2 separate regions of the Homo sapiens genome follow, and region 2 is linked to region 1. Evidence: fine-mapped expression QTL. Tissue or cell type: esophagus muscle. Region 1 holds a variant in brackets; the other region holds the start of a gene. All regions are shown on one strand. Distances are between the middles of the regions.

Region 1 (10,397 bases):
ATGTGTATTGTTTGAAATGTGTGAGATCATGGTCACCAGAAGTTGCTGGCTGAAAATGGCATCAGCAAAAGCAGGCGACCTTCATATGCTTGGGAGGACCCCTAGCGACTCTGGGGATGGAAATGGCTTGGTGAGAGCCAGTTCCCTATTTCCAGGAAGCACTGCTCTCAAGCTTCTAAAGAGGTGGGTATAAGGATCAGAGCAGGGAGTCTGTCTCTGCACCCTCCCACCCCTCTCCCCCACCACAGACAGCACCGACATCCAGGGCTCCTGGCCAAGCAGATTCTGCCCCACTGTGGACCCTGTACACTGAGGGTGATGAGAGACTCCTCTCAGGAGAGATGAGCAAATTACCTACTCTCCCTTGTAAGCAAACTCGTCCTCTTCATATTGGCCGGCAATCACATGAGCAGTTATACCGAGGGGCACCAGTCTGTGGAATGGCACAGGGCAAAAGCCAGAGGCTTGAATTTGGGGGATTTTATACTCATGCTGAAGATAATTTGCTGTGTCATGATGTCCAGCCTCCTAACTTCCCTGAGCTAGTGTCTCTTCTGTAAAATTTGTATAATAATATTACATAGTCTTCCTGCCTCACAGGTTAGTAGGTTTTAAGTAATAGAACAGGTAGAGATAATATGAGGCAGGGTTTGGCAAAGTATAAAAGTACAGCCATACACCACTGTGATGTTATTGCCCTCCCCGCCCAACTCCCTCATTCCCCTAATTACTGTGACTCTACAAAAAGTAGTCACCATTGCTAAGTCCTGTCTACTTTGTATTAAATAAAAGGCCAGTAAATGCCTTTGGGTTTCTTAATCCAGGTGACAGCCACCTGAGGAAATAATAATTACCTTGTTCTATAGAGAGAATGTAGTATATTGGTTAGGAGCATGGGCTCTGGAGTCAACTTGGTTTTTCATTCTGATTTTACTAATCGTATGACCTTAGATATATCACTTTAAGTTCTCTGTGTCTTGGTTTCCTTATAGTGTTGTTTTTGAGGAATAAATATATGTGTCTGGTTCACAGTAAGGCCTCAACCAGTGTTAACAATAGTTATAATAGTTGCTGAAATTAGGAAGTTGAATGATTTGTCTTCGGTCACACAGCTGAGAAGTAGCAGAACTTGGATGTGACCCAGTTTTTCTGACCCTCAGTTTAGTGCTTGTTCCACCACACTACAGTTACCCACCACTTGTGCCTGTTTCCATCTTCTCAGCCCTTTTGATTCTTCAGATGTGAGTGATATTTTGTTGTAATTATTTCTACAACAACTGAGTCAAACAATCATAGGCCATATAGAGCCTTATGTGGGTGGGATGGAAGGGACTTTTATCTCTAAAGGTCTTTTGGGCTGGGTGTGGTGGCGTGCATCTGTAGTCCCATCTACTTGGCAAGGAGGTGGGAGGATCACTTGAGCCCAGGAATTTGAGGTCGGTCTGGGCAACACAGTGAGACCCTGTATAAAAAAAAAAAGATTAAAAGAAATTTAATAAAAGAATTTTGGGGCCTGACCTTAGCCCAGTCATTCATTCATTTAACAAACATTTATTGGGCACCTACATGTGGCAAGCATCGTTCTATGTGCTGGGAATACAGCTGTGAACAAAGCAAAAAAAGCCTTCATGGAGCTAGCATGCTAGTCTTAGGACCTTCTTTGGGAATCCATAAACTTTCCCTGAGAGTGCTTTATGTTTCTTTCTGTTGATGAATGTTGCTTTGCATCACGGGAAGCTTTATTTATCATTAGCTGCCCTGGTGGTTCTCAATATAAGCTGTGTTTTAGCATTACCTGGGAAGTCTGTTAAAACTGCAGCTTTCCAGGTCTGGGATAGGACTGTCGTCTGTAATTGTAATGAGCCCAATGTGTGATTCTGCTTCTCAGCTAAGTCCAGACTATGTCTTTTGCACTTACTCATTATTTTGGATTTCTCTGTAATTGGTGAGTAGTCTCACTTCCCTGGCTACACTG[T/C]CATCTCATGGTGGACATTTATATTTTATCTCTTCTGTATTCCAACAGCATTTGGCCCTGTATTGGACACATGGTAGTTGCTCACGTACTTACCAATTAATTATTCTCTTCAGGTAATTATTCATTGGGTCATTTATAGGGGGACCCTGTGGTATAGTGGAAAATCTGGAGCTTTGAAGAAAGACAGTCTGGGATTGAACCCCAGTCCTGCCATGGTCTAAAGCAAGCTTGTCCAACCCACAGTCTGCATGCCACATGTGGCCCAGGATGGCTTTGAATGCGACCCAATAGAAGTTTGTAAACTTTCTTAAAACATTATGAGTTTTTTTTTTTTTTTAAACTCATCAGCTATTGTTAGTGTAAGTGTATTTTATGTGTGACCCAAGACAATTCTTTTTCCAGTGTGGCCTAGGGAAGCCAAAAGATTGGATACCCCTGGTCTGAAGTGTCACATCGGTCAAGTTTCTGTGCCTTTCCAAGCCTCCATTCCTTCCCCTGGACGAAAGGGATAATTACCCCCACTCTGCATGGTAGCTGTGAGGATTAAATGACACAACATAGAAGAAATGCCAAGCACAGAGCTCAAAAAATGTTTGATGCTAATACTTTTCCCCTTCCCTAACTTTTGAAACTCCAAAGTAGGTAAAGTTTGAGTGCTCTTCTGGAAACTCAGGTTTGCGCCTGAGTAAAAGCAGCAGTAGGGGGCCTGGTGTAGAAGTCACATGCATTGATTTCTAATTTCAGCTCTGGCACTAACTTGCGGTGTGATGTCAGGCAAATAGGTTAACCTCTTCAGGCCACAGATTCATCACTTGAAAACTGAATTGAACCAGTCTTTTCCTATCCTTTTTGTGATTTTTTGGGGAAATGATACTTTGGCAAGGGTTGTTTCTAAGAGTTAATTCCAAAACATCACAATAACAACAACAAAACCCAACAAACCCAACACACACATGCCTATCACACAGCTTTTACACTGTAGGTATTCAAGAAACATTCACTGAATGAGTGAATGTGCCAAAACAGCCCCCAATGAACCAATTTATGATCTCTAAGCTCTTTTCCAAATTTTCCCACTATCCCAAGTACTCCATACCCTCCATAGGCAAGAGCTACTTGGCAGGAGTTCATAATGTCAATTTTAATTTCTATCTTTGTGTTGTGATGTTTCAGAGTTTATACAGCTCCCAGGGAGAAGCAGTTGTCACCATAGCAACCTACAGGCCACTGCAGTGAGAAAAATTAGTGCCTGCCCAGACCTAGTAATTGCTGTAGTCTTTTCCTTTTGGATTCCTAGCAGTGGATGCTTGAATACAAATACCAAGTGGGCTCCAGCCAGTGAGGGTAATAGTGTACAGCAGTAAACTGTCTGTTAGCTGATGCTTACATTTCAGACAAATTGAGGAGGTTGTCAAAGGCATTAGCTTCTATCCTTTCCAGGGAATCAATCTGAGAGATTTCACTAGGGAAGAGAGGAGGGGGAAAAAGAGAAAGAAACATGAAAGAAATGACCGTGTCTGCATGATTATGAGCTATGTGTGTGACCCAACAACTGGGGACACCACTGTGTCCCCCTGAAAAGAACAAAGATGTGCAAGTTGTCCCCAAATCATACAGTGCTAACATCTCCCTTTAGGAGCACTGATGGGCACCTACAACCCAAGTGCAGTTGAAATGCAAGTTTTAGTAGCCCCTGTTTATGTGACAAGTTTTTCTCTTATTTATCTCTGACTCAGAGCCACAGATTGTTAGAATTGCATAGGCCCTTTGAGAAAATCTAGTCAGATTCCCTTGTTTTACAGCTCTGGAAATTAAGGCCCTGAGAGGAGAGGCAAATAGTATTTGTATTAAGGTTCAAGACTAGGATATGGATCTCTGGGTCCCAATTCTGTCACTCTAGTGAGGCTTTAATATGGATTGAATTGTTTCATAACTCTTAACCCTTAGTTTCCCAAAATCTCGTGCTGAGGCCGTTGCAAGGTGGTCAACTCCTGCACATGGTATCCATCCTGAATTACAATTACCTACTTCCTTGACTGTTTTTCTCACTTGTGAGCAAACTGAGGACAAAGAGTATATTCTATTCACTTCTGAATCCTTGGTGGCTTCATGTTGCTTGGCACAGCGTTAAGAGTACAAAATGAATGAATAAGTGAATGCAGTAGTGAATAATTGAATTTTTTGAAAACAATACAAAAATAAAGAAACCAGTTTTGTCATATATGATTCGCAAGCATGTAAGTCATGCCAATGTTACCCTAAAATCCCAACATACGCTACCATTTCCTGCCAGTTGAAAAAAAAGTCTCAAATTCACAAACTGTACATTTGCTTATTTCTAAGGTTAAGGCTCACTGAAGGCTTCAGACTGATGAGAGCATTAGCCCACAGAAAGGCAGAGCCTAAGGTAGCTAATGTCTTTTCTTAACAACACAGGAATGGATTATTCTTGGCTGATTCATCTTATTCCTACCTATTGGTTTGCTTATTTAACTGTAGCTCCTTTTCTCAGTAGGAGGTCTTAATGCATTAAAGGTTATCAAAACTCAACATTCCAACTTGAGAGCAGAAGAGTGTGGGTTAAGCTCAAGTAAACCGACAAGTCCGTAACCTGCAGGGAATTTCCTATAATATGCAGTAATTCTTGAGGAATTATTTTAAATATTCTAATTGCTTACTAATACCCTAAAGGGCAATAGAGGTTCCCAAAGGAGCTAAGATCAATGCTGTAGCATCTTCTTTAGAGATGCAAATCTGCTTCCAAAGTCCAGTGGATTGTTAAGATTGGAGATGCACTGTGAGAACTCAATGGCCATGAGGTCCTTTGACTCAGGCTAATATTAAGAAAGATGCTGGAATACTGGGCCCTTGAGAACATTCTCTCTCCAAGTATGGGAACTTTGGTCCTAGAAGCTGAAACCCAGAAACAAATGATCGAAGTTATGTCTGACAAACATGAGATCATACTGCATTATCCAGGTGCTTTACACTTTTGATAAATGCCTTTCATCAATATAGTTATAAATACTGTGTTTTTGTCATATACTTATATTTTAGATATAAAGATTATCTTCTGATGCACAATAAATTTCCAACACATTTTTTTTCCTATGTGGGTGTTATCTAAAAATGTGACACAAGGGAATAGCTGCTCTAGCAGAAGGAGAATTTTTATGATTGGAATCTATCTTTTTTTCTCCTTAAAAGGTATATCATCACTTATAAAATGCATTCAGTCATTTGAAGCAAGGTTAATTATCTGTATTTTAATGACTCTTAAAAATCATACCTTTTCTTCAAAGGTCTCTAGTTATTATTTGTATTACAAAGATAAAAATATGTGAGTATCCTAAACACAATTTCTTTCCTAGAAAAATTATCCCCTTTCAAATGTGTTTTCTCTTAGAAAAAATTCATTATTCCAATTACGAATGTCTTTTGATATGCAGTAACTTACTTACATTTTTATGACCTCATTAAGTCCTCTGAAAGCTTGAGATGGGATCACTTTGACAGGGAGGTAGGCAAGTGATCTAGAAAAGAAAAAAGGAAATCCAAGAGTTTAAGATTTATGATAGGGTGCCTTTTAAGTTCATGAATAAAATGGGTATGTGTATGTGTGTGAGAGACAGAGACTTCAGAGTTCCCAAGAACTGGATTCAGGCTGAGGATTCTAACTTAAATCAATGAAGAGATGTGCCATGACTTATTCTTGGTCTTTATCAAAGAGTGTATAATTTTGCGGTTAAGACTGTGAACGTTGAGATTAGGCATACCTGGACGCAAATCTTCGCTGTCCCACTACTTGGCTATGTGATTCTAAGCATGTTATTTAAGCCCTCCAGCTCAGTTTCTTTGTCTGTAAAATTGCAATAATAATTCCTACTTCACAGGGTCATTGTGATAATTAATCAGGATAATCCATGTAAAGAACAGGGCTTGGCACCAAGTATATAGTTAAATAGTTGTAGAGTGATCCTATAGACTTGATTGGGAAGATGGACAAAAACTATGTTGAGTAGAGTGGAGACATTAATGATGAAAATACAACTGGAAATCATGCAGGCAGGAAAACAGAAGATTCATTAAGAACATGCTCCCATCTTGATCTCTACTGTCTTTCCCAGGTAGCCTATTTCAATATTATTCCAAAGAGACAACTTTGATCCTATGGTTAACTCACATGGGCATCTCATGTCATTTGCGGGGAATGTCTATGAGATCATTTCCTTCAGGCATTCACTTATACCCACAGGAAAAATCTAAATATTCTTGAAATTGAAATAAAATCTATGCTGTACTTAAGATTTGAGAAAAGAGTGACACTCAGAAATGCAAAACCAGTATAGGATGATGTGTGAATGCTAAAGGAACTGGAGGTTAAGATAACTCAGGAGAAAGCAACTGCAAGGCAGGGACGAACATGCAGCCAACATTTATTGAGTATCTACAATGGTTTAATGTTTTGGCCCAAGGACTGGCAGAGAGGAAGGGAGTGGGCAAGGATATTTCAGGTGGGAAGTGAGTATGTGAGTATCAGGAATATGAGAACAAAGGTGAAAGATGCTGTCTTGTTTTTAACATGTCTATGCAGCAGAGACTGCTTTAAGCTTCTAGGAAAGAACACCTCCATGATGGGCAGATGAAAGTAAGATTTCTTACAGTCCCAGAAGGGACTTGCTACAGTTGTAAGCTACTATGTGAGTTATACACACCCATTTGTGACCTTCTTTTACTCACTCAACAATGGTGTGAGGTGGGAATTTCTCTTACATAGCAGAAGAAATTGGGTCACAAAGAGACTAAGTAACCTGAACAAGGTTACAACGAGGCAGAATGACTCCAGACATCCTTTCCCTGTGCAATACTGGCCAAAGCATGTCACTCTTAATCCCATGTCTTGGTGAGCAAGGTGGAGGGACAGACATTGCAACCTTGCTTCTCCTGAGAGGAAGCATGTCACATTCGCTCTATTTCTTCTGCAAAGCGGTTTACCAGCCGTTCCTCCCTAGGTGCTAATAGGGAGGAAATTTCATTTCAGAAAAATATTTTCACTCAATAATCTCTTAGAAATGATATAACCTAGAGAAAGTAATCCAACTTTGGTCTCTGATTCTATTCCCGAAGGCATTCCCAAGAAGGACATCGTTTAACACCTAAACTCATTTAACAAAGGATCCGAGAAGAACAGGGACAGTGTGGGAAGAAATCTTCTTGTGATGGCATATTTGCTTCCTATATTTCTTCTGGAATCATGTTCGCTTGGCTTCCTGATTAAAAACACAGTTTTATTGCTCTCTGCACTGCCAAACCAATAAATTTACAGAAGAGAAAGCTGTATTCCACTGTACCCCTTGCAGCATCAATAAAACTGACAGCCAAATTCTGATTCCAGAATCTTTATTGCTGGGGATAATGCAGTGCAGAACATATTTTGGAGAGTGTTTACATAAAAGCTTCAGCAGAACACTTCAGAGCTGTTTATTCATGCAAATGGAGCCCAGAAGCTGAAGTCTCTCAGCAGGCAGCCTCCTCCTCCAAATGGGAGCATGGTGTGACTCCCAGAGGAGCAGTTTGGTTCAGATTTGATCAGGGAGGTTGCCTGAGCTTTTGATTGATGTAGGGAGGAGGGATGAGGAGCAAAGGTCGGACAGAAGTGCAAGAAGCTGTAGATCATGCAATGGCAGTCTCCAGTGGCTACAGAAGCAGCCCTGGTGCAAGCTGAAATTTTGCAGCGTTGATGTTGATGCTGCAGAGCAGGAAAGGCAGCAGTGGGGAGAGTGAAACTAGAGCCTCCCCTATAAAAGAGACACCAAGTGAACAGCAGGTGACTTTGTGGATATGGCTGGGTCAAGAAAGAGTCCTGGGGGCCAGGGAATGGGGAGAGAGGTGGGGTTAGGCAGGTGCACTGTGCTTTTCACAACAGATGTGTTCCCATGAGGCAACACAGAGAATGTGGTCCTGTGAATCGAAAACCATTTTCCCTACAGACTTATATGTTTTTTTTTTCAGAAATGTCACATCTTCATTTCTGATTCGTCTTTGATGGGTAGCAGTTCCTAAGCATTCAAGTATCTGTCTCCAGAATTTATTAATAAAGTTTATGATTTGTTGATAACTGTTTGAATGTACTCCCTTTGAAGGTGTCCCACTCTCTATTGGATGCATCTATGATTCTTTCCATGATGCCAGAAACTTTTAGCAATGTGAACAATGATCTTAATAACCCTGCAATTCCACTCCTGTATACATTGAGAAAAATTCTCAAATTGATACTTAAAGGAATCTTGTACAAACGTTTTCTTCACAGCATTGTGGCATCAGGGGCTTGGAGGCAACCTGGGTGTCCATTACTAGGTGAGGGAGTATGTAAAATTTGGACCGTACACACCTAACTGAATAGGAGAGCCTGTAGAAGTGAGAGTCTAAAGGCACACAGAGTAGCATGGGTGGATCTTCAAATCATGGAACTGAGAGAAACAAGAAATTACGGAGATATAATATACTGTTTGCAGAATTAAAATATATGTAAACGAAACACTAGACATTAACCTCCTCCTGCACATGAACATACACTAGGATTGTTATCTAAGGTGAGTTGAGAGGAACAGAAGTGGGAGAAGGAGATAAAATAAATAACTAAAAACAGAGAGGGACTTTGAATGGACTAGTGATAATGTTACTTGAATGAAGAAATATGACCAACTTAACCCTCTGTACTAGAGAGACAAATGGAAAATAAAAAAGGTTTATTTTGATGTATTGGCAGCCTGCTTGCTTACCTTTCTTCCTCCTCCTTCCTCCTCTCTCCCTTCTTCCCTCCTTCCTTTCCTTTCCTTCATATTTTTTTGGAGTTAGGCATACTTGTATTCCAATAGTTTTGTGAACTATTGTGGAAAGGTCTAGTCGGTATCATTTGATATAGAGCAGAAGCCAAGGAGAACTGAGGGCAAAAATGCCTAAGGCAAGGACAGTTCAGCAGCTCTGCTGTCCAGGGTCAAAAAAGGAATGAAAGCTATGCATAAAGCAAAGAAAATAAAGGAAGGACAGAGCCCTTTCTGTCTCAGCAAAAGAGGGTGATACACCACAACTATGCACCTCAGATGGGTGGTAAAGAATTAGGGTTACTGGGAAAATATGAGGTTGAACTTGCAGGGTGGAGATTCTCTCTTGAAAGGTGAGACGGCTGTGGAAAAATATGGCTGTAGAACTATGCAGCTACTTAAATTTATTATATTTTCACAGTCTTTTTTGCAGTTTTGAACTTTTGTTTTTAAATAAATTGATGAGGCAACGCAGGTGGCACCTTGCCCAAGTGCCTTTGCCACAGATGTTGAAACAAATGCTTCAATTGGATTACAAAGTCTGCGTTAGCTTCATCAGCTTGGAACTTCCATCTACTCATTAATCTCATCTGCAGGTCCCCAACCCTTCTAGTTGTGTGTTAAAGTTGAAATCGAAACAGTCTGTCCTCCTTAGGGCTGGAATTAAGTCATTCATCCTAGTACTGGGATCTTGTGATTGGTCATGACTCTGGCGAGGCTTGTGCATCGTCTAAACTGGACCCAATAATATTAATATTTGGGGGCAGGAGTGCACCTGCAGTGCCTTCCCACATGCTATGCTGGTGTTTGTTTTTGTCTCGATTTCTTATTCTGTAGCTTGCTTGGTCTCCCCAGAATCCATCTAGGAGTAGGGCTTCTCTTAGTTCCTGCCTTCTCTTTTTCTCAATCACCAGATCCTGATCCCTGTATCTCTACCCCTTAGGGAACACTGCTGCCCTAGAACAGTTCCTGGTTGCTGTCTGGTTAGGGTCAAGCTAGTATCTCTTACTGCTTAGTTCTGACTTTCAAACTGGGCCCCTTGGCACAGACGGTGACCCTGTGTTAGGACTACCCAGTGGAGTTGGGTTACTTTCTGTAGTGGATACTGTGGTGGGCTACCCAAGTCACTCTTTAGTACTGACGCACCAATTTCGCCAACTGCTAGGAAAGAGTGGGTGGCTGAAGCTCTCAGCTGAGTTGCTCTCCTAGAATTATGCTTATAGACTGATGTGGTTTGGGTCTGTGTCCACCCAAATCTCGTGTCAAATTGTAATTCCCAGTGTTGGAGGTGGGGCTTGGTTGGAGGTGATTGGATCAAGGGGGCAGATTTCCCCTTTGCTGCTGCTCTTATGAGAGTGAGTGAGTTATCATGAGATCTGGTTGTTTAAAAGTGTGTAGCACCTCTCCTCTCTCTCTTCCTCCTGCTCTGGCTACATGAAAATGTGCTTGCTTCCCTTTTGCCTTCTGCCATGATTGTAAGTTTCCTGAGGCCTCCCTAGCCATGCTTCCTGTACAGCCTGCAGAACTGTGAGCCAACTAAACCTCTTTTCTTTGTAAATTACCCAGTCTTGGGTATTTCTTTATAGCAGTGTGAGAAT
Region 2 (10,397 bases), 24 kb after region 1:
TAGTCTTCTTTCTGTCTGTGGATTCTTTCCTGGGGGCTGTTACCTTGTGTGCTACACCAGGAGGCCATCTGTCTCAATTCAGGCTGCCTTGGTGGTTTTTGTTTGCTTTCAGTTTGTTTTTATTAAGGAATCTTGGGCTGGGGATTGATTCTTCCCTACTGAGTCTAAAAAAATAAAATGAAAACAATCTAGATGGAATATACTGATATAGGTAAGCTTCAGGTCTTGCTTCCCTGAAGTTGATATGTCTGCTATTTCCCATTCAAATGATAGACTGGAAGCCTACAAATTCTGTTATAGGACCTGGATGCTGACATAACACAAATAACTCCCTTCAGAACCTATAGCATTTTCTCACTTCCCCATTTTCTAAAACAGAGATTTAAAAAATGACATTTAGCTGTAATACATGCTAGCTGATGTAGACATGCTTCTTTTCTGCATGAGTTAATTGTTCCTATTCAGCTATCTCAGTTTAATCATGAAACTCAGTAACACTTTAATTATACTACATGTGAAATTCTGGGAACCCTGAGTTGAATGACATTTCTTCAGGTGGTTCTTACTCTAGCACAATGATTCAAAACCAAGGGGTGGGGAGGAATTTCCCCCTGCCCCCTCCGGGGGTCATTTGCCAAATGTCTAGAGATACTTTTGGTTGTCACAATTTGGGAAGGCAGCGCTCCTGGCCAGGGATGCTGGAAAACATTCTACAAGGTTCAAAACAGCTCCCATAACAAAGAATTATCTGGCCCCAATTGTCAATTGTCAATATTGCTAAGATTTAGAAACCTGCTCTGGCAGAAGAGGCACATGTTGAACAAATGGCTGCATTATGGTGAGATATGTACAAAAATATATGTAAGCCCAGGATATTGAAGTGAGTATGTGGATGGGGAAGATGGAGGTGGAGTGGGGGTGGGGCAGTGGGCATCAGGGAAGGCTTCATGGGGAAGTGACTCCTAATCATGGTTTTTACTTAATGCCTTTGCAACCAATCATCAAATAATGGCTTTAATTGAAAGCTTATTAGTCAATAACTACATATTGGGATTTTTTTTTCTTTTTGCACAACGTCTGAGTAATCAAAGCTCTCTAATAACTTTATGTCTTCTCTTAAGAAATATTTCCCCCCCAGCCTGGGAAGAATTTATTCAACCTTCTTCCTTGCTTCTCAGCAACGAATCTCTAGTTGATTTTAACCTGTGGTTCTTCCACCAGGACCCCTCTTTCCTTCTTCACAGTTCAGCTTCTTAACACTTGGCCCATGAAGCCTTCCCTTGGAGACTTCAGTTCATAGTGATTAATTCATTCTGTGAATTCCTTAGAGCCTTGTTGTCTTTCTCTCTACACCTATACCAGTCTCTTGGGGGTGTGTTTCCACTTACATTGTGGGCTTCTCAAAGACACTACGGCACTGAACACTGTTTTGGACCCTGATTTACACTGCAAGTGAGAGGAAGAGGAAGACACTCAAGAAAGGTGTCAGGAAAGAGTAATGCTGGATCGATATGAACATTGCATTAGGTTGGTGCAAAAGTAATCATGGTTTTTGCCATTGAAAGTAATGGCAATTACTTTTGTACCAAGCCAATATCTTGCCAAGGCCTCTGGATTATGTCTTCAACAAAATCTAAAAGTTTAATTTCTGTTCAGTAGGTACAACATGCAAAAAATAAATTGCCATAATTATTATTAGCATTTTCTTACTAACAGATTTTTCAAAAGCTGTTTCCATATCAAGCAGATCAACCTTTCTGTTGTCATAGAGACAAAGATCTTTATATAGCCATGGGCAAGGTGAGATTTTTTTCTCCTCTTTCCAGTTGCCTAGAACTAATAAGAAAGGAAAGGAAATTTTTTAAATCAGTTTTTTCTTTCATTTTTTCCCCAATTAAAGTGAGTGAAATGTGGGAGGTTATATTTTGTATCACATTTTAGATTTTAAATACCTATGTTTTTCATAAAATATGAAAGGGGAGGAAAAATTTGAACGATGCCATTTTCAAAATTTGTAAGCAGCAGGCTTGTCAGTGATAAGCAGCTATAATCCATGTACCTTGTTTTTTTTCTTCTTCTTAAACCAAATAGTGAACTTTGGATGGAGGTCTTAGAAGGTAAGGTTACTAGGACCCCAAATGACTAAAGCATAAATTAACATCTATTGAGGGACTAATGCTGAATCCTAAGGTGCTCTGCAGTACTTGCCTCCTCCAACCCTGAGAACTTGGAGTGCTCCCCTTCTCTCTGCAGAGGCAAAGTCTATGATAATGTAGTGCAAGACCACATCCTCTCCTCCTGGAAGACTTACCTCATAATTTAAGCTTTCTTTTTTTTTTTTTTTATGAACTGATAACTTGCCATCATAGCAGTTTTCTGTCTCATAATTACTGTTTATCATTTCATGCATTCATCATCAAGAAAAGAGGATTTCAGTATGAACCTGTCCACTTTTCCTGTCCTTTGTCTTAATATTGAGTTATTCCTTTACCCATAGGTCTTCTTACCTCAGGACTCAAAACTTCTTATTCTTTCTAAGGTTAATCTTTCCCCCATGTTGTTAGACTGATGCTCTCCTCCTACCCCCATTGAGATCTGACAATTAACATTCCTCCCTCATTCCCTGTATCTTCAGTCTGTCCTCCATGGATTCCTTCCTGCAGTCCTCTTTGAGGAAAAAAAAAACTTCCCTCAATTCTGCTTATTTTCCGTCTGCCTCTGGGTTTAGGATTTTGATTTTATGCCTTTTTGCAATAAATAGGTGTTATGCCGGATTTTGGCGGGGGGGGGGGGGGGTGGGGAAGGGAAGTGTATGGCACAAGGACTTTTAAAATATACTTTTTCCTCTCTAAGATGATACCTCCCTGGAGAGCTGTGCCTTGGTTCTCAAACTTTAGTATGCATCAGAATCACCTGAGGAGCTTGTTAATCTGTAGCCTGCTGGACCCCACCCCTGGAGTTTCTGATTCAGTAGGTTGGGGCTGAGGCCTGAGAATATGCAGTCTAACATTTCCCAGGTGATGTTCATACTGCTGAGCTAAGACCATACTTTGAGAAATATTGCCTTGAAGTAACAACCCTCCCTTTGCTTAACATGCACCTCTCTTGTCATATGGATGTTGGTGTCACTATGTTGTGCCAAAAGTTACCCTGTTTTGGCCTGCATAGGCTCAACCTCCACAGAGTGACAAGGGCATCTCTTGAAAGATGAGGGCATCTCTCAACCATCTGGTGCTCAGGAAATGAAACCTTGTGAGGGTCACCACGCTTGGCTAAGGAGGCTAAATGACTGGCAGAGGATGTTCCTGGTGGTGGATGCTCAGGGTCTCTACCCCCAAACCTAGTCAGCCCTATCAGATATTTTTGAGGGGTTCTAGGATTCTTGAAACCCTGCTGAAAGGCAGCAGGAGAAAGTGGGATTTTTAAAAAAAATTTACTTCAGCCTTTTCCAGGGAAGGGGGTCCCCTCCTGAGAACAGCACGTGGCAGCAGGAGCCCTTGAGAGATCTTACTGAAAAGCTGAATTGAAAAGGAACTGGGACTTGGCCCACCCATTCATGCCCCCAGTGGGAGTTCTTTGCTCAGTACTAATTTTGGAGAAACTGAGTGTGTGTGTGTGTGTGTGTGTGTTTTATTAAGAAAGCAGTAGTTTTTCTTACAAAGATGAGCAAATTTAAAAAGATAATTAATAGATAAAATCCTGAATTGCTATTCAATAGCTGTGAGACCTTGAGCAAGTTATTCCTTCTCCTTGGATCTCAGTTTCTTCTAATCTGTATGATAAGTAGCAGGCAAGTGAGAAAGTCTGTTAGTAGTACAGTCATTCTTAAGAGCAACATGGCATGCTTGTCAGGGACGGACCAGGGCTGGAACTTGGAAGGCCTGTTGCATGGATTTGTGGATTGATTGAAACAAATTCTATCAGCATGGTCCATTCCTTCAGGGAATGGACCTGACAAGATAATTAATGGAAACTAATTAATATAAACCCCTCAACCCTTTAACTGTATCTCTCAACCACAATTATTCCCAGAAGGCCTTTAACTTTTCCACATGAAGAAGCCTGGCCTGGCAGGGAGGGTGAGTCTCCTCTATGAAACAGCCCGTGACAGACTGTTGGGGGCTCAAAGGAAATGGCAGAGGGGGTGGTCTCCTTCCTTCCCCAGCACAGAATTCCATCATCTCTAATTGTTAGGACATGATCAAGACCTCTACCAGCCTTTTAGATACTCTTGTCTTTTGTCTTTTTTTCCCTTTCTTTTCTTTCCTTTTCTCTTTTCACAGCTGTATTGAGATGTAAATCCTACACTATAGAATTTAAAGTGGACAATGCAATTGTTTTTAATATGTTCACACGCAACTGTCTCTACAATCTAATTTTACAAAAATTTCACCACCCCCCCGCCCCAAGCCCATACCCACTGATTAGTAGTCACCTACTGTCCCTCCCATCCGCTTCCCCAGCCCTGGTAACTACTAATCTACTTTCAGTTTATCTGGACATTTCATGTAAATAGTATTATAAAATATGTGGTACTTTTTTTTCTAAATAGGAGAAAGGAGACCTGATGACACCCTGATAGTCTAGTACTAAAGGCTCCCCTTCTCCTCTTTACCCCATTACTCCAGAAACAACGCCCTCCCCCAGGTTGCTGATGTATACAATCCCTCAATCAGGCCTGTGAGTGTGGAGGTGGTGCGCGGGTGCCAGCGGCAGGGCACAGGGCCTTTGGTCCATTAGACCATGAGACTGAAGTTCAAGCACATCTGGGCACGGTGGAGCAGCGGCTTGTGTGCTCACTAAGATGCCCGTGTGACTGCCAGCAGTCAGTTGACAGATTAGGTCACCCTTGGCCATAGGGCCTGAGCACTCCATTCCTAGAGGACCACAGGGTGCCAGAGCTCACATTCACCTTCCCTGACGTGGCTGGCCCAAGGCTCAAAGGCCTGTAAGACTTCTCTGGCAGAGACCCCTGCCAGAGGAGTTGAGGAGCGTCACACCCATATTCCCTTCAAGCAGCGGCAGAGAGCAGGCCTTCCCCTGAGGTTCCTGAATAGTTCTACTCCCCCGGCCACAGCCCCAACCAGGGGTAAAGAATGGGGCTGGGGCTCTCAGAGGCATGGGGTGGTAAAAACAACCACCAAGTTTTGGGTTCTCATCACCCTAAAACGTGGGGGAAATTTGATAGGGCAAAGCGTTTTTCTCCAAGCTTCCAGGGAAAGGGGGCCAAAGGAGTAGGGAGGGAAGGTGGCATAGAGCGATGGAGGGTCCTGCATCAAGGGCGCCGCGACGGGAGCGCTGTGTACTCACAGTCGAGTGAGACCGGCCGTGGGGCCGGGGCAGCGCAGGGCGCCGTCGGGCACGCAGTTGCAGGGCTCAGGGCAGAGCGCCTCGCGCAGCGCTCGTGGCAGCGGCGGCTGCAGCAGCAGCAGCAGCTTCAGCAGCTGCAGCGCCGAGAACCGCTGCTTCATGGCCGGCGAACTGGGCTTCTGCGGCTTGCCAGTGTCTTGGACGGCCTCTGAGTGCGGCCCGCACCCCTCTCCCCGCCCCTTGGCTGCCCTTCCACACACCCTTCCCTGCCGGCCCGCCCCTGCCCTCCCCCTCTTACCGCGCACCCCGCTGAGTCTGCTCTGCCTTGACCTGCGACAGTGCCCAGTGACCCAATAACCTCCTTCCTGCTACTTTCCCCTGTCTTGTCCCCTACCATCTGCAAATGGCCCTAGCTATAGGAGGTAAAGAGATTTAATGGCAAATGTTTTGGATTAGAGGTGGGGAGTTCTGAATTGAGTGAGTTGTGACGCTTCCCGGAACCCCTTTTATTTCATTTGTGAAAGGGTCCGATGGATACTCGCTATACCCACATCAGAAGGCGTAAGAGTGCCTGGCTCAGACATTTTTCCTCTCTTTTATCCTCAACCCCTAATCCTTTCCCCTTCTCTTTCACCAAATCCCTCCACTCTACAAGTAATCTTTGCCCATCCTCCCAACTACCCCAGTAATTTCTCTTGGTGGTAAATGCTTTCTTATTTATGGTATAGCTATTTGGCTTGGTCCTGTATCTCTTCTATAGATTGGGAGGTCCTTGAGAGCAAAATCCAATTCAGATTTATTTTTGTATTCCTTCTGGCTTCTACATGGTAAGTCCTCAGTAAAGATTTGTTGAATGAATGAATGAAACTGCCTAATACTGGTAGCAGCTGCCCCATAGAAGGCCCAGGATAGGCTAGACCTTGTAACAGGTGCTCTGCCTCACATCATGTTTAAGCTCCACATTGAACTAGCAGGGTGTTTGCGATGAGAAAAATGTCCCAAGAGGTATGTGGCTTCCCTGAAGTCACACGGTTTTAAAGTAGTGAAACCTGGAACTCATGTCTATCACCTACCACCTCTCACCAATGCAAAAAGCTGCTATGATCTACATACCAAAGAACTTAGGAGACAAAATTTTACGGTAATCATGGGGATCCATAATATCCCCTCTTTGATTTGATCATTTCTTCCTTCCAAGGATTCTGTTTGGATTCTGGAAATCCTAGCAGTTTTGCTGGAAGAGGTGGACTTTGAAAGCTGGGAAGGCATTTAAGGCTTTGAAGAGAGGAAATATAAGAATAGATTTCTTTCACTCTGAAGCCAGTTCTCAAGGATGGGCTCCTTCATTCACCATTCTACAGTCTGTTGCTCAAGGAGGGTAGATTATTATTATTTTAAAAACTTGTTTGGCTTTGGCCACATTGTGCTAGATGGCACAAAAACAATGCTCATGTCTATAATATTGTCTTCTCTGGATCCTCTCTTCAACTGCTTATAGATGACTCCTCACCCTTTAATACCTCTGCATGGGCTGTCCCCACTATTTTCTCTTCTTTTTCCATTATTCCATTAGATAAACTCCCAGTTGTCCTTCAAGACTCAGCCCAATGTCATTTCCACTTTGATTCTTCTCTGAGTCATCCTAGTTGAGTAGTTGTGGCCATAACACCTGGTTCTACAGCAGGTAATCTAACACACTGTAATTGTGGGTTTAATTTTGCTTTCCCCTCTCTATTCATCTCAATATCAACAGAGCATGTCATAGCTTCTAGCTCCTAGTAGGTGTTCCATATGTGTCTGTTGAATAATAGAGTGAATAAGTGAGGCCCAGATTTGTAGTAGATGCTCAGTAAACTATCTGAGAAGAGCTTGATACCCTCACTTGCTTTATTCTCAACCACGCTGGATCTATCTGGATATGTAAAAAGTAATTATACATGACGACTTTGGGTGTCATGTTCTCTGTTCTCTTTTAGTTTTGTCAGATTTTGGTAGGGAAGTTGGGGTAGGCACTGGGATTTTTAAAAGTTTTCACCATGTATCTTGAATGGAAGGAGAGAAAGAATGAATAACTCAAGGTGCCTGAATGGCTTTTCTTTCAAGTCTCATGTTTTATGTGACTTTTTTCTTTTTTTAACCCTGTAGTGTACCTGTTATATATAAAAAAAGTTTGCTCCCACCCACCCCTGAATCTTTGAAAACAATGGATATTCCAGAAGAATCATTTAATTCTGTACTCCAGTAGGAGGACTAGGCAATCAGAACACTAGGATTTTCCTTCTGTTTCTGCTGTCAATCATGAGATTTGCCCTTCAGTCTCTTCATCTGTAAGAAGAAGGGTTGAAGTTCACTATCCCTAAGGCTCTTCTGGCTCTAAAGATGCAAGGACTTTCTAAGCAGCTCCTACAGAATTGCTAGTGGGAGGAATTGGATTGTATATATTGACTTCTTATAACTTGTCTTGGATTGGAAATAAAATCCTGTTTATGAGGAGTTGAGGTTGTTCGTTTGGAAGAAAGCTAACAACTGTAATGAGTTTTCATAAAATTTTACTATCTAGATTAATTTCAGTTGGATCTTAATTATCACATCAGTTCTTGCAATGTAACTATTATAATAAAATCATATTGATTCATTTGTTATAATCACAAAAGTTTGTTACAATGGAATTTACCTATCTTATTCATTAATACTCATTATGAGTGAGTATTTTTAAATCCAAAGGACTTTGTTTCATTAACTATGCTTATAGCTACTTTGTCAGAGAACTTCAAACCAACATGACCCACAAAGATTGCTGATTACATTTTAATGACAAAATAAAGTTCACAGAATTCACAAATATTTTATCCTACTTTAGAGATAGAAAAACATACTGACACCGTAACTCAGAAATTGCAATTAAAACTCTCCAAAGTTTTAGAATGGAGCTTCTCATATTTTAGGGTGCAGAAATACCATTTGCAAAGCTTTAAATACGAAGATTCCTAGAACTTTCCCTATGAGATTCTGATTCCATAGATATAGAGTGGGGTCCAATAATCTGCATTTTAACAAGCTTTCTCGTGTAATTTTGATGCATGTAGTCCTAGAGCACAATTTGAGGAATACAAAAATGGTAATCCTAGAATTAAATTTGCCTGAAGAAAACAAAGCTCAAGAATCTTTATTAAGGACTTTGAGTGAAGCCTAATAATTTTGATGCATCTTAAAAGAAACCTTGATATGTATAAGCATAGAAATAGTATATTCTGTATACCTGTGTTTAAATGTCTAAAATTATTTAATTGGTTATATTGCTGAAATTTATTTATTTATTTATGGAATGAGCCATGTTGCAAAATCATGGAATCTATTTTCTTTATGCCACCCTAGGTCAAAACTCAATAGCATCTGAAGTTACATTAACACATTGGAGTTGAAAGACATTAGCAAAGTAATTTTTAAAAAAATTTTTACTTTAAGTTCTGGGATACATGTGCAGAACGTGCAGGTTTGTTACATGGACATACCTGGGCCATGGTGGTTTGCTGCACCTATCAACCCGCCATCTAGGTTTTAAACCCCGCATGCATTAGGTATTTGTCCTAATGCTCTCCCTCCCCTTGCCCCCCATCCCCCAACAGGCCCCAGTGTGTGATGTTCCCCTCCCTGTGTCCATGTGTTTTCATTGTTCAACTCCCACTTATGAGTGAGAACATGTGGTGTTTGGTTTTCTGTTCCTGTGTTAGCTTGCTGAGAATGATGGCTTCCAGCTTCATCCATGTCCCTGCAAAGGACATAAACTCTTTTTTATGGCTGCATAGTATTCCATGGTGTATATGAGCCACATTTTCTTTATCCAGTCTATCATTGATGGGCATTTGGGTTGGTTCCAAGTCTTTGCTCTTGTAAATAGTGCTGCAATAAACATACATGTGCATGTGTCTTTATAGTAGAACGATTCATAATCCTTTGGGTATTCCCAGTAATGGGATTAGCAAAGTAATTTTTAAAACCTTAAGTAGAATAGGCAAGGTTTTTTGATTATTGAACACATACCCTGTTAGTATAATAACTGGTATTTCTTCTCACTTAAAAGCAGTGGTTTTACCTTTCCCTTGGAAGAAAAGGTGAATGTAGGCAGAGGAAGAAAAAATTGCTTAAGAAGAGAAAAATACAGTTACATCTCTGAGCTGTTCACCTTTTTACCTGGGGTAAAAAAACTAAACAAAACAAAATAAGGAGAATAAAAAAGACAGTCCATGAAAGTTACACTCCAAAATTTCATGCAAATTCTTTATTGCTTGTTTAGAATTTTCATCTCCATTTCACTGTCTACATAATGTAAAATCAGAGCTGCGATCATCTGTGCCACCTCCCACACAGCCCTGGGGTTCTTGTGGGCCTCAGCAGGAGTTTGAAGCTGCAGGATGATAGGAAGCTGGGCTGGTAATTGGAATGTGATGATTGGTCTGGGGCATGAGAATCCTACTCTAAGGCTGATGGAGAGAGAGAGTTGGAGAAGGGGCCTTGCCTTTTTGGTCATGTTGCTGGAAGGATGTGAATGAATTAGGGGCTGCTGTCCTTCTTGTCTCATGGAAAAAGCCTGTTTGTGCTGGCAACAACTAGAGGAAAGTAGAGATGAGAAATAGATGGGGGCAAGCAGTCTTGTTAATGTCCTTTGACTTCATGGAACTGGTCATGCCTGAGGCCAGCTCTACCCTTGGACTTCCTAAGTAATGAGCTAACACACTCCCCTCCTGCTTAGTCTAGTTGGAGTTGAGTCTCTCTCACTTGCAACCAAAATTCTTCATCTCTACTATCAGCCTTGCTGTGAACTTTATTTAACCTGCCAACTTCCCTCATCCCTTCCCAGTTAGGAGAGAAATAGGGCTTTTCTATTCTTATCTCTGTCACAGGACTCATTATAGTCATAGTGAATTTTTCTCCTTTGCATTGACAGCCTTTATCATCGTACTTCTAGGAATAAACAAGTCAAATGAGTGAATGAACAAATGAATGAGTGCACAAAGAAGTAGTGTAGTAGAATCACGTTATTCCTCTTTGTAGAGAAACTGCATTTTGTTACATAATTTACCTAACAT

Which allele goes with the higher level. Positions count from the first base shown, and alleles are read on the strand shown. Sizes are in standard deviations (SD) of each study's normalised expression.
With allele C in place of T in region 1, the expression in esophagus muscle of the gene that starts at base 5,524 in region 2 is lower (large effect, 0.77 SD a copy in GTEx).

What was found. PIP is the estimated chance that this variant, and not a neighbour inherited with it, causes the effect.
Region 2: LHCGR starts here. The variant in region 1 is fine-mapped to the expression of LHCGR in esophagus muscle (GTEx, PIP above 0.99). The same link has a PIP of 0.9 or more in esophagus mucosa, gastroesophageal junction and thyroid.

The regions. Positions count from the first base shown.
Region 1 is chr2:48,725,791-48,736,187 of GRCh38, forward strand. All of the region lies in intron 10 of STON1-GTF2A1L (STON1-GTF2A1L readthrough), which reads left to right. LHCGR (luteinizing hormone/choriogonadotropin receptor) reads right to left here. Exons shown (of 11, transcript NM_000233.4): 2 at 5,437-5,508; 3 at 3,363-3,437. Among named protein-coding and RNA genes, the nearest start is that of LHCGR, 25 kb to the right of the region's middle. The variant T/C (reference allele first, on the strand shown) is at 1,976.
Region 2 is chr2:48,750,201-48,760,597 of GRCh38, forward strand. LHCGR (luteinizing hormone/choriogonadotropin receptor) reads right to left here and starts at 5,524. Exons shown (of 11, transcript NM_000233.4): 1 at 5,311-5,524. The coding sequence starts at 5,471. The region is part of intron 10 of STON1-GTF2A1L (STON1-GTF2A1L readthrough); the gene reads left to right. RefSeq lists enhancers at 26-185, 5,082-5,858.